4 separate regions of the Homo sapiens genome follow, and regions 2, 3 and 4 are each linked to region 1. The links come from fine-mapping of genetic effects on gene expression. A gene starts in region 1. Each other region holds a variant in brackets. All regions are shown on one strand. Distances are between the middles of the regions. Region 1 holds the start of EXT1 (exostosin glycosyltransferase 1). Region 2 overlaps EXT1 (exostosin glycosyltransferase 1). Region 3 overlaps EXT1 (exostosin glycosyltransferase 1). Region 4 overlaps EXT1 (exostosin glycosyltransferase 1).

Evidence for each region.
Region 2: its variant is fine-mapped to the expression of EXT1 in whole blood (TOPMed, PIP above 0.99).
Region 3: its variant is fine-mapped to the expression of EXT1 in CD4 T cells (BLUEPRINT, PIP 0.95).
Region 4: its variant is fine-mapped to the expression of EXT1 in whole blood (INTERVAL, PIP above 0.99).

Annotation. Positions count from the first base shown.
Region 1 is chr8:118,110,522-118,113,282 of GRCh38, reverse strand. EXT1 (exostosin glycosyltransferase 1) reads left to right here and starts at 1,457. Exons shown (of 11, transcript NM_000127.3): 1 at 1,457-2,761. The coding sequence starts at 2,237. RefSeq lists silencers at 1,035-1,414, 1,515-1,604.
Region 2 is chr8:118,090,660-118,093,159 of GRCh38, reverse strand. The region is part of intron 1 of EXT1 (exostosin glycosyltransferase 1); the gene reads left to right. Among named protein-coding and RNA genes, the nearest start is that of EXT1, 20 kb to the left of the region's middle. The variant G/T (reference allele first, on the strand shown) is at 1,371.
Region 3 is chr8:117,860,234-117,862,733 of GRCh38, reverse strand. All of the region lies in intron 1 of EXT1 (exostosin glycosyltransferase 1), which reads left to right. Among named protein-coding and RNA genes, the nearest start is that of SNORD168, 59 kb to the left of the region's middle. The variant AAAAAAAAAAAAAG/G (reference allele first, on the strand shown) is at 1,233.
Region 4 is chr8:117,854,512-117,857,011 of GRCh38, reverse strand. The region is part of intron 1 of EXT1 (exostosin glycosyltransferase 1); the gene reads left to right. Among named protein-coding and RNA genes, the nearest start is that of SNORD168, 65 kb to the left of the region's middle. The variant C/G (reference allele first, on the strand shown) is at 1,558.

The sequences.
Region 1 (2,761 bases):
ACTTTCCACTCTATCATTTCATACTGCCTTGTTATAACCCTGCCCTTCATCCACACCCCGCTGGGGTTTTTGCAGCCTGAGGGAAGCCGGGAAGTGTCTGCTCCTAGCTCTCAGTCACTCCCATAATAAACAATCACTAAACAGCCGGCTGCCCTAGGCAACTGTCTAGCTTGCCCGAGCCCTGAGACTTTAGCTAGGCCAGAGGGTGGGAGGTGTTTTCTGTAAAGCAGTGTTCAGGATCTGAGGCCAGGGAGTTTGACTTTGACCAGAGATACTGTTTGGGAGCCTAGCACATCTTTGTGGACCTGGAGGATCTTTAGCGGGACTGCTCCTCGGTTACCTGAGTTATCTAATGAAGTTCTTCCACTGGGAGTGGCAGGAGCTTGGGCCAAGGAGTGGGAGGTCAGTGAGGGAAGGACCAACTATTTGGCACTAATTGTACATAAGGTAGTTTTCCTGATGCAAGTGTTCCTTCTATAGCTGGGACAGTTGGCAATTCTACCAGTCATATGTCCTTAAGAGATATCTTTAACACCACCACCACCACCACCACCACCAAGAGAATAACATCACTTTGAGGACTGGGGCAAGCTTAAATTAACTGGTTTCCCTGCAGCCATTAGAAAATTTATTTTTTCTCTGTGATTGGATCTCTTGGAAGCTTTCTTCATAATAGACAGAGGGGGCTCAGGCAAGGCGGCCTAAGTAGATAATGAGGATTTAGGATAGCCGTCTTACACTCTTAGCACAGAGGCAGGCATGAAGAATTGCAACAATTCCTCTTGATTGTAATAATTCCTCTTTATTGTTGGGCATTGGGGTGTTTCTTTGGTTTAAAAAAATGTGCTATGTAGAGGAGGAGTAAGGGGAGATTGTTTTAATGCTTAGCAGAAAATTGAAATACTGGGTCTCGGAGAGTGGAAGGAGGGCTGGGAGAGGCAGCTTTCGGATCGGCGGTCGCTTTCTATGAAGTCTTCCTTTCCTCCCTGCTTCCCTCCTTCAAAGCATCTTTCTCTAGGCGTTCCGGCAGGCAGCCCAGGAGGCCAGATTCTCCAGGGCGCCCGGGGCCGCGCGGCACGGGGCCCCTGCCGGTGCCTCCTTCCCCGGCCGCCGCGTTTCCGCAGGCGCCTCTGGTCCCCGGCACGGCGCAGGCCGAGATCCGGGCCTGGGCGCGCCGAGGGGCCGCGGGGCTCGCACCGGGCCGTCCCGCGCTCCACCTGCCCGGCAGCCCGCCGGCAGCTTGCAACCCGGGAGCCCCGGCTCCCTGCGCCCCCTACGCCCCCAACGCCGCGCCGGCGCCTCGGCCCGCGGCCGGGGGTTATGAATGGGCGCAGCGGAAGCACCGCCCCCCCCGGACGTGACGCTCGGCCAATGGCAGCGCGGGCTGCGTGGATGGATGAGGTCAGCGCTGTCGTGTCGGGAATGGAATGTGTAAGTGTAACATTCAGAACCGGGTAACATTCGGCGACCGAACGCGGCGGTCGGCAGCGTTCGCGCGGGGGCCTGCGAAGCGCTGCTCGGGGCCGGCACTGCCCGCGGGGAGGACGCGCCGCCGCCGCCACCCAGCGCCGCCGCCGCCGCCGCCTCCAGCCGGGCCGCCGCGCGTCCCGGGGGCCGGCCCCGCGAGCGCAGGAGTAAACACCGCCGGAGTCTTGGAGCCGCTGCAGAAGGGAATAAAGAGAGATGCAGGGATTTGTGAGGTTACGGCGCCCCAGCTGCAAGATGCACTAGCCGGCTGAACCCGGGATCGGCTGACTTGTTGGAACCGGAGTGCTCTGCACGGAGAGTGGTGGATGAGTTGAAGTTGCCTTCCCGGGGCTCATTTTCCACGCTGCCGAGAGGAATCCGAGAGGCAAGGCAATCACTTCGTCTTGCCATTGATTGGGTATCGGGAGCTTTTTTTTTCTCCCCTCTCTCTTTCTTTTCCTCCGTCTTGTTGCATGCAAGAAAATTACAGTCCGCTGCTCGCCCGCCCTGGGTGCGAGATATTCAGCCCCGCTCTCTCCCGTGCATTGTGCAACCCAAAGATGAAAGACCGAAGGGGAGAAAGTTAAAGAAATCGCCCACATGCGCTGGATCAGTCCACGGCTTGGGGAAAGGCATCCAGAGAAGGTGGGAGCGGAGAGTTTGAAGTCTTTACAGGCGGGAAGATGGCGGACTGGAGCTGAAAGTGTTGATTGGGAAACTTGGGTGATTCTTGTGTTTATTTACAATCCTCTTGACCCAGGCAGGACACATGCAGGCCAAAAAACGCTATTTCATCCTGCTCTCAGCTGGCTCTTGTCTCGCCCTTTTGTTTTATTTCGGAGGCTTGCAGTTTAGGGCATCGAGGAGCCACAGCCGGAGAGAAGAACACAGCGGTAGGAATGGCTTGCACCACCCCAGTCCGGATCATTTCTGGCCCCGCTTCCCGGACGCTCTGCGCCCCTTCGTTCCTTGGGATCAATTGGAAAACGAGGATTCCAGCGTGCACATTTCCCCCCGGCAGAAGCGAGATGCCAACTCCAGCATCTACAAAGGCAAGAAGTGCCGCATGGAGTCCTGCTTCGATTTCACCCTTTGCAAGAAAAACGGCTTCAAAGTCTACGTATACCCACAGCAAAAAGGGGAGAAAATCGCCGAAAGTTACCAAAACATTCTAGCGGCCATCGAGGGCTCCAGGTTCTACACCTCGGACCCCAGCCAGGCGTGCCTCTTTGTCCTGAGTCTGGATACTTTAGACAGAGACCAGTTGTCACCTCAGTATGTGCACAATTTGAGA
Region 2 (2,500 bases), 20 kb after region 1:
CTTTTCCCAAAGTTTTCTTGTATCTTCTCCACAAAATAAAAATTTCTTTCTTCTAGTTCACTGACTTGGAGATTCAAGCAGCAGCACGATAAAAATACCATATTGCATTTCCAATGAACTCCTTTAATTAGATGAGATGAATTAATTGGATTTTTGGGACATGTCTGTGAAAGTATAAGATACTCACTTTTGGAACTCCCAGGCATGGTGTGGCCTGGGAGCTTTCTCAGTTTGCTCCTATTCAGGACATGGTGTAAGAACTGTCATTTGAAGCCTGTCATTTTAGTCCCCCTTGGGGGTTTTACAAATGGCCTAGTGATTTTTCAGATAGCAGAGAATAAATCAGCAGTGATTTGGCCTGCCCTTCAGCCTAGGGCATTCCCTGGTTATCACCAGCCTCATCATCAGGTGCTTGTATTACACGTTTTTCTGTCCACACCGGCAGGTGAGATGGTAATCTAAGAGTTGATTTCCAACACGTGCGGAGGGACTTTCGAAAGTCCCCCTAGTCCCGGTATTCTCTTGCCCTGTATAATTTTAGGGGTCCAGGCATTCAGGCTTGGATCGTCCTCCTTATGTCTTTCAGGGCCTTGGAAAATTCTGGAATTTAGACAGGGGCAGTAAGTCAGTGGCTGTAGCCCTTGAATCCCATTTGGGACCTTAACTCATTCTACCTTGCATTATAATTATTTGGTTTTTAACTGTCTAGGTTTCTGTACTTTCAGGGGTAAAGCTGATTCATTCTCCTCTGTATCCCAGAGTCCACCTCCAAGGTGGTAGGTTGCTTGATAGGTGCTTAGTAAATATCATATTTGATTAACTTTTTGTAGCCTCCTCTTTAGTCTAGAAATTCTAGATCCCAAATAGAAGGTAAGATATGGTATATTCTGGACTTTTAGTTTTCTATATCTCCTTTTCAAATACAGACCTAGGGTGACAGACAAAAAAATATTGTGATCAAAGTATATAGCATTTCCTTTCATGGTGGAAAAATGTGCCTGATAAATGTTTTCTCTGCATTATTTTCCTCCAAATATATTTTAATGACAGTTATTTGGATATTTCACACTTTATACTCGACTTGGGCTCAGATTAAGTCTTGTGTTAGTTATAACCTTGAATAACAATTAGGTTCATGAGAACAGGGATGGTGTATATTTGTTTTTAATCTGTTTCCCAGCACTTAACCCAGTGCTGAGTTTATAGTGGGTCTCCAAGAAATACTTGTTGAATGAGTGGCTTTTGGTCATGGTGGCCTTTTAGTGCAGAAAAACTTTTGGATCTGAATTGTTAGATTTACTTAATTTTTTTGTAATAACACAGAGAATGTTGAATAGAAAAAGTAAGTTTAGAAGATACATATATATATA[G/T]AGAGAGAGAGGGAGAGTTAGATTTATTTATTTATTTATTTTTGTGAGATGGAGTCTCGCTCTGTCGCCCAGGCTGGAGTGCAATGGTGCGATCTTGGCTCATTGCAAGCTCCGCTTCCCAGGTTCACATCATTCTCCTGCTTCAGTCTCCCGAGTAGCTGGGACTACAGGTGCCCGCCACCATGCCCGGCTAATTTTTTTTTCTTTTTATTTTTAGTAGAGACGGAGTTTCACTGTGTTAGCCAGGATGGTCTCAATCTCCTGACCTCGTGATCCGCCCGCCTCGGCCTCCCAAAGTGCTGGGATTACAGGCGTGAGCCACCGCGCCCGGCCGACTTATTTATTTTTTTGTAATAACACAGAGACTGTTGAATAGAAAAAGTAAGTTTAGAAGGTATATATCCATATCTCTATATATTTTACCCTCCTTGAGGTTCGAAATAGTAGGAGTGAAATTAGAGATTTACCAAAATCGGATGATGATTTGCACCTTTGAAATAACTCATGCCTTTGATTGTCACTTTAGCTACAAGTAGGTTCCTGGTCATAACTGTAATATCCCTACAAGCCTGCTTTATGGAACTTGAGCTGCATCGTATTGTCTAAGATAGGCCTCGGTTCTTGGCCGGGTGCAGTTTATGTTCTTTGAAACTGTCTCCTTTTGGGGAGCAGGCTGAGAGATAGTGAACTCATTGAAGAGAATTGTAGCGGAACTCTCTAGCAACTTCCTAATAGAAGATGTCCCCTCCTTGACTTCTTTGGTGTTTCAGCTGCCCCATTGAAGGAAGGGACAGACTGTGCCCTTGGGACCAGAGCCTCCTTGCTAACTGTCTGCAAATGAATGAGGCACCAGCATGCCATGCTCAGCCAACCACCTGTGGTACAAAACAGCTTTCCTGGACTCTGATCCCTTAGTATAAACCTGTGTATACAGGATTCACAAGGATATAATTCTGTGGTGTCATCTATCAGGCACATGCTTTTTTTTTTTTTTTTTTTTTTTTTTTTTTTGAGACAGAATCTCACTGTCTCACCCAGGCTAGAGTGCAGTGGCCCTATCTTGGCCCACTGCAACCTCTGTCTCCCAGGCTCAAGCAATTCTCCTGCATCAGCTTCCCGAGTAGCTGGGA
Region 3 (2,500 bases), 250 kb after region 1:
AGTTCCCTGTCATGATTTGTAGCCACAGGTGACTGGCATTTGCAGGACTTCAGTGTCAGTAAGCCACAGTCTCCACGGACCACATCCCATTCCTGTCTAATTCCCCTTTGTAGATCTAACATCCAATTCCAGCAGTGCCTGGATGGAATGAGCACTCAGTAAACACTGGTCCCCAGTAAGAATAAGCGACTCACTGACTACTGAAGGAGGTGCTTTTATAGAGTGGATTCAATATATTTCTCCCTTCTGAGGTGGTCAACCCTGATTCCTCCTAATCCCACCAGTCTCCACCCGTTTTATTTACATTGTCATAGGAATGAAAGAGAAGTTAAGGAAATAATCAAATACTTCTTTTAGAGATGAGGTGCAGCCTCACCTTCTGCATTTGGCTATCTCTGTAACTCTTTGGTAGGGGGCTATAGAGCAGGAAGCAGGGCCTATTCTTTCCCACCTGGCTGGTTCAGTGAGGACGCTTGCCATGTGGATGTGCCCCATCTACTGGTTGAATTGCGTGGCTGCATTCTTAATGATTGTAATGCCCTGTCCATTCAGACTCTTTAACAGCAGCTGAGACTGTGCTAGAGTTTGTATCACACTTTATTATCCTGCTGGCAACAAAATTAACCATGAAGTGTGATTTGCTTACAGAGCGCATGATTGAGCATCTCTAGTGTCTAAATTTTCATCAGTGTCGTACAAATTCTTTTGTGTGGGTTTTGAAAGTTTGAAGCTGTAAAGTTTCACACTAATGTCCGTGGCTTAAAATTTATAGTTTAACATCAGTTTTCACCGTTTGGTTTGTCCCCTGTGTGCATTATGTTCACCAGATTTGCATCATTTAGGGATTACCTCTCTGCAAGATGTCTCAGAGATATGAGCACCACAACCATTTTTTGGTCTTCTCTTGAGGATCTGGGTTTTTAAGACAAAAACTTCAAGGCCGGGTGCAGTGGCTCACATCTCTAATCTCAGCACTCTGGGAGGCTGAGGTGGGTGGATCACTTAAGGTCAGGAGTTCAAGGCCAGCCTGGCCAGCATGGTAAAACCCCATCTCTACTAAAAAATACAAAAATTAGCTGGGTGTGGTGGCACGTATCTGTAATCCCAGCTACTCAGGAGGCTGAGGTGCAAGAAAAACTTGAACCTGGGAGGCAGAGGTTGCAGTGAGCCAAGATCATGCCACTGCCCTCCAGCCTGGGTGACAGAGCAAGACTCTATCTCAAAAAAAAAAA[AAAAAAAAAAAAAG/G]ATAAAAACTTCAGGGAGCAAATGGCATTTCCATGCTCTCCTTTCATACATACCCCCCAAAATCGGGACTTAAATTGCCTCATAAAGCTCAATAAGTAAATTGGAGAAGATAGACTTTATTGGCTTACTTAAACATAATTATTTTAAAATAACAAACTAGTCCCTGTGTTGATAAATGTTTTATATCTTAGCTGCTATGTCTGAATGCCTTGTGTAAATTATGAATTAGCTAGTAAATGGACTTCGCAAAGGATGCTCAGTGGGGCCTGTCAGCCAAGGGCTAAGTGGATAGCCTTTCTGACATTCTACTGCTTTTTAGCTGTTGTGTTGGGGACGTAGATGTCTGTAGTCTCATTGTTAGGGCTGAAAGATATGTTTCCATGAGGACCCAGCAGAGTAATAGTTCCAGTGGGTAGATGAAGGCCAGATGATTTGGAAATAAGCTCAAAATGTCCTGTGTCGAGTTTGGATAATTTTATAGCCCACATAAAACATTTCATATTAAAGTCAAATCGTTCGTCCCTATTTGGACTAATGACAGCTGCTTATTTCGACTAAGAAAGCTGCTTCCAGCATCTGAGATGAGTTGTATCTGACCTTTAGCCCCTTTACCTGTAGACCAGGGGTTACTAACTCAGATGCCTACAGGGGCCAGGTAAGTGATGTAATAAATGAATCAAGCCAGCTCAGCTTCTGCTAATTTGCCGTGAGGGAGTACAGCAGGTCCAGTGCTGCCAAATCTTCCCATTTTTCATGAGATGCCTGAAATCCGGATTTTGGCATGAAATCTCATGATTTGAAAATGTTGGCAATTAATTTAAGAAAAATGTTTAGATTCAACAGGGACTAAACCAAATATATCTGCCAGAAGGATACTGCTTGTGATTCTCCAATTTGCAACCGCAGATAGTCCCTGGCAAAGATTATCTATGTAATAGATACTCTTTCCTTTACAAAGGACATACTGAATCACCAATTATTTGAAATAGATTTAGGGGGCACAAGTGCAGTTGTCTGACATGGACATACTGCATAGTGGCGAAGGCTGGGCTTTCAGTTTGCCCATCATCTGAATAGTGGACATTGTACCCAATAGGTAGATTTCTTCTTCTCTCATCCCCCTTCCACCCTCCCACCTTGAGGAGTCTCCAGTATGTGTTCTTTCACTCTGTATGTCCATGTGTACCCATTGTTGAGCTCCCACTTCTGAGTGAGAACATGCAGTTTTTGGCTTTCTCTTTCTGAGTCATTTCAC
Region 4 (2,500 bases), 260 kb after region 1:
AGATTTAGCTTTAAAGCTAAATATACAGCTTTTAAGTTAATTCTTAAGGGTCCTAGGATTTTTGGAGTGGTAAATGAGCATTGGCTTCAACTTCAAGTCACCAGCTGCATTAGCCTCTTAAAAGAGAGTCAGCCTGTCCTTCCAAACCTTTACACCAGTCATTGATTTCTGTTCCCTAGCTATGAAAGTCATAGAAGGCATCTTCTTCCAATCTAAGGCTATTTCATTTACGTTGCATGTCTGTTGTTTTGTAAAGCCACCTCATCAATGATCTTATGGATAACTTGCTGCAGCTTCTAGATCAGTACTTGCTGCTTCACCTTGCGCTATTATGATATGGAAATGGCTTCTTTTTTAAAGCCTCATGAGCCAACCTCTGCTAGGTTCAAACTTTTCTTCTGTAGCTTCCACATTTCTCTCTGTCATCATAAAATTGAAAAAGCCTTGGCCAGGCGCGGTGGCTCACGCCTGTAATCCCAACACTTTGGGCGGCCGAGGTGGGCGGATCATGAGGTCAGGAGATCGAGACCATCCTGGCTAACACGATGAAAACCCGTCTCTACTAAAAAAAAAAAAAAAAAAAAAAAAATTTAGCCAGGCGTGGTGGCTGGCGCCTGTAGTCCCAGCTACTCGGGAGGCTGAGGCAGGAGAATGGCATGAACCCGGGAGGCGGAACTTGCAGTGAGCAGAGATCACGCCACTGCACTCCAGCCTGGGCAACAGAGCGAGACTCCGTCCCCCCACAAAAAAAAAAAAAAAGAAAAAGCCTTACTCTGCTTTGGCTTAAGGGGAATGTTGTGGATGGTTTGCTCTTCTAGGCAGACCACTAAAACTTTTCCAAATCAGCAATAAAGCTGTTTCTCCCTCTTATCATTCATGTGTTCACTGGAGTAACACTTTTAACTTCCTTCAAGAACTTTTCCTTTGCATTCATGACTTGGCTGTTTGGCATGAGAGGCATAGCTTTCAACCTGTCATGCCTTTCAACATTCCTTCTTCACTAAGCTTAATCATCTCTAGCCTTGGATTTAAAGAGAGATGCGGCCGGGCATGGTGGCTTACGCCTGTAATCCCAGCACTTTGGGAGGCCGAGGCGGGTGGATCACCTGAGGTCGGGTGTTTGAGACCAGCCTGGCCAACATAGTGAAACCCTGTCTCTACTAAAAATACAAAAAATTAGCCAGGCATGGTGGTGAGCACCTGTAATCCCAACTACTCAGGAGGCTGAGGCAGGAGAATCGCTTGAACCTGGGAGGCGGAGGTTGCAGTGAGCCGAGATCGCACCATTGCCCTCCAGCCAGGGTGACAGTGTGAGACTCCGTCTCTAAATAAATAAATAAAGTGAGAGACGTGTGACTCTTCCTTTCACTTGCACACTTGTAGGCCATTGTAGGGTTATTAATTGGCCTAATTTCAATATTTTTGTGTCTCAGGGAACAAGGAGGCCCAAAGAGAGAGGGAGGGGAAATGGCTGGTTGGTAGCATAGTCAGAACACACACATTTTTCAAGTTCACCATCTTAATATGGGTGAGTTTTGTGACATCCCAAAACAATTA[C/G]AGTAGTAACATATCAAAGAGCATTGATCACAAATCACCCTAACATACAATAACAATAAAAGTTTTGAAATATTATGAGAATTACCAAAATGTGATAGAGACAGGAATTGAGCACGTTGTTGGAAAAATGGTGCCGATAGACTTGCTTAGGGTTGCCATAGACCTTCAATTTGTTAAAAACAAAAACAAAAACTCAAGATCTGCAAAGTGCAATAAAGTGAAGCTAGGCCCATATTTACAACTAGCTGAGCAGACCTGCCACTTAGTTTGGTGTTTTAGGTTTGAGATGATTTCCGACAACTTTACATGTGCTTAGCATCCTATCAAAGCAGTGGGGAGAGAGGATATGACTGCTTTATCTTATCCAGAATGCAGCAATCAGAAAACCTATAAACAAGCCATTTTAATGTCAGCATAGCATACATATAAGTTCTGCATTTTAAGGTTTAGTAGTTCATTATTTGAATTACTCATTGCAATGGGCACCAAAATCTTTTCAGTGCTCATTGCTTTGAAAGATTTCATTTATACCTATTTCTCCATATGGCATCAAAACTGCTGGTAAAAAAAATGCAAGTGAAGTTCAGCAGCATCTACTTCAGATTCAGAGGGCTATGTTCAGGTTCTAGTTATGCTTCTCTGGCTATATAACTCTGGGCAAATTATCACATCTCTGTCAGCCTTGGTGTGCAGCTGTGAAATGGGACCATAGTATTAGTGTTACAGATTGTGACACTTAGGACGCAATACTGTATGTAATTAGCATAGTGTTCAGCGAATGAGTGTGCTCTCAACAGTGTGGCTGTTATATCATCATTATCATTGTTATTTCTACATGCTAAGGTATTATTTTATAAACATGTTTTATATTATTGGCAACAAGCCTTTCCTTTAACACTTACCAGCAGCTTTCTTTTTCTATGCAGGACTTTGATTTAAAGAT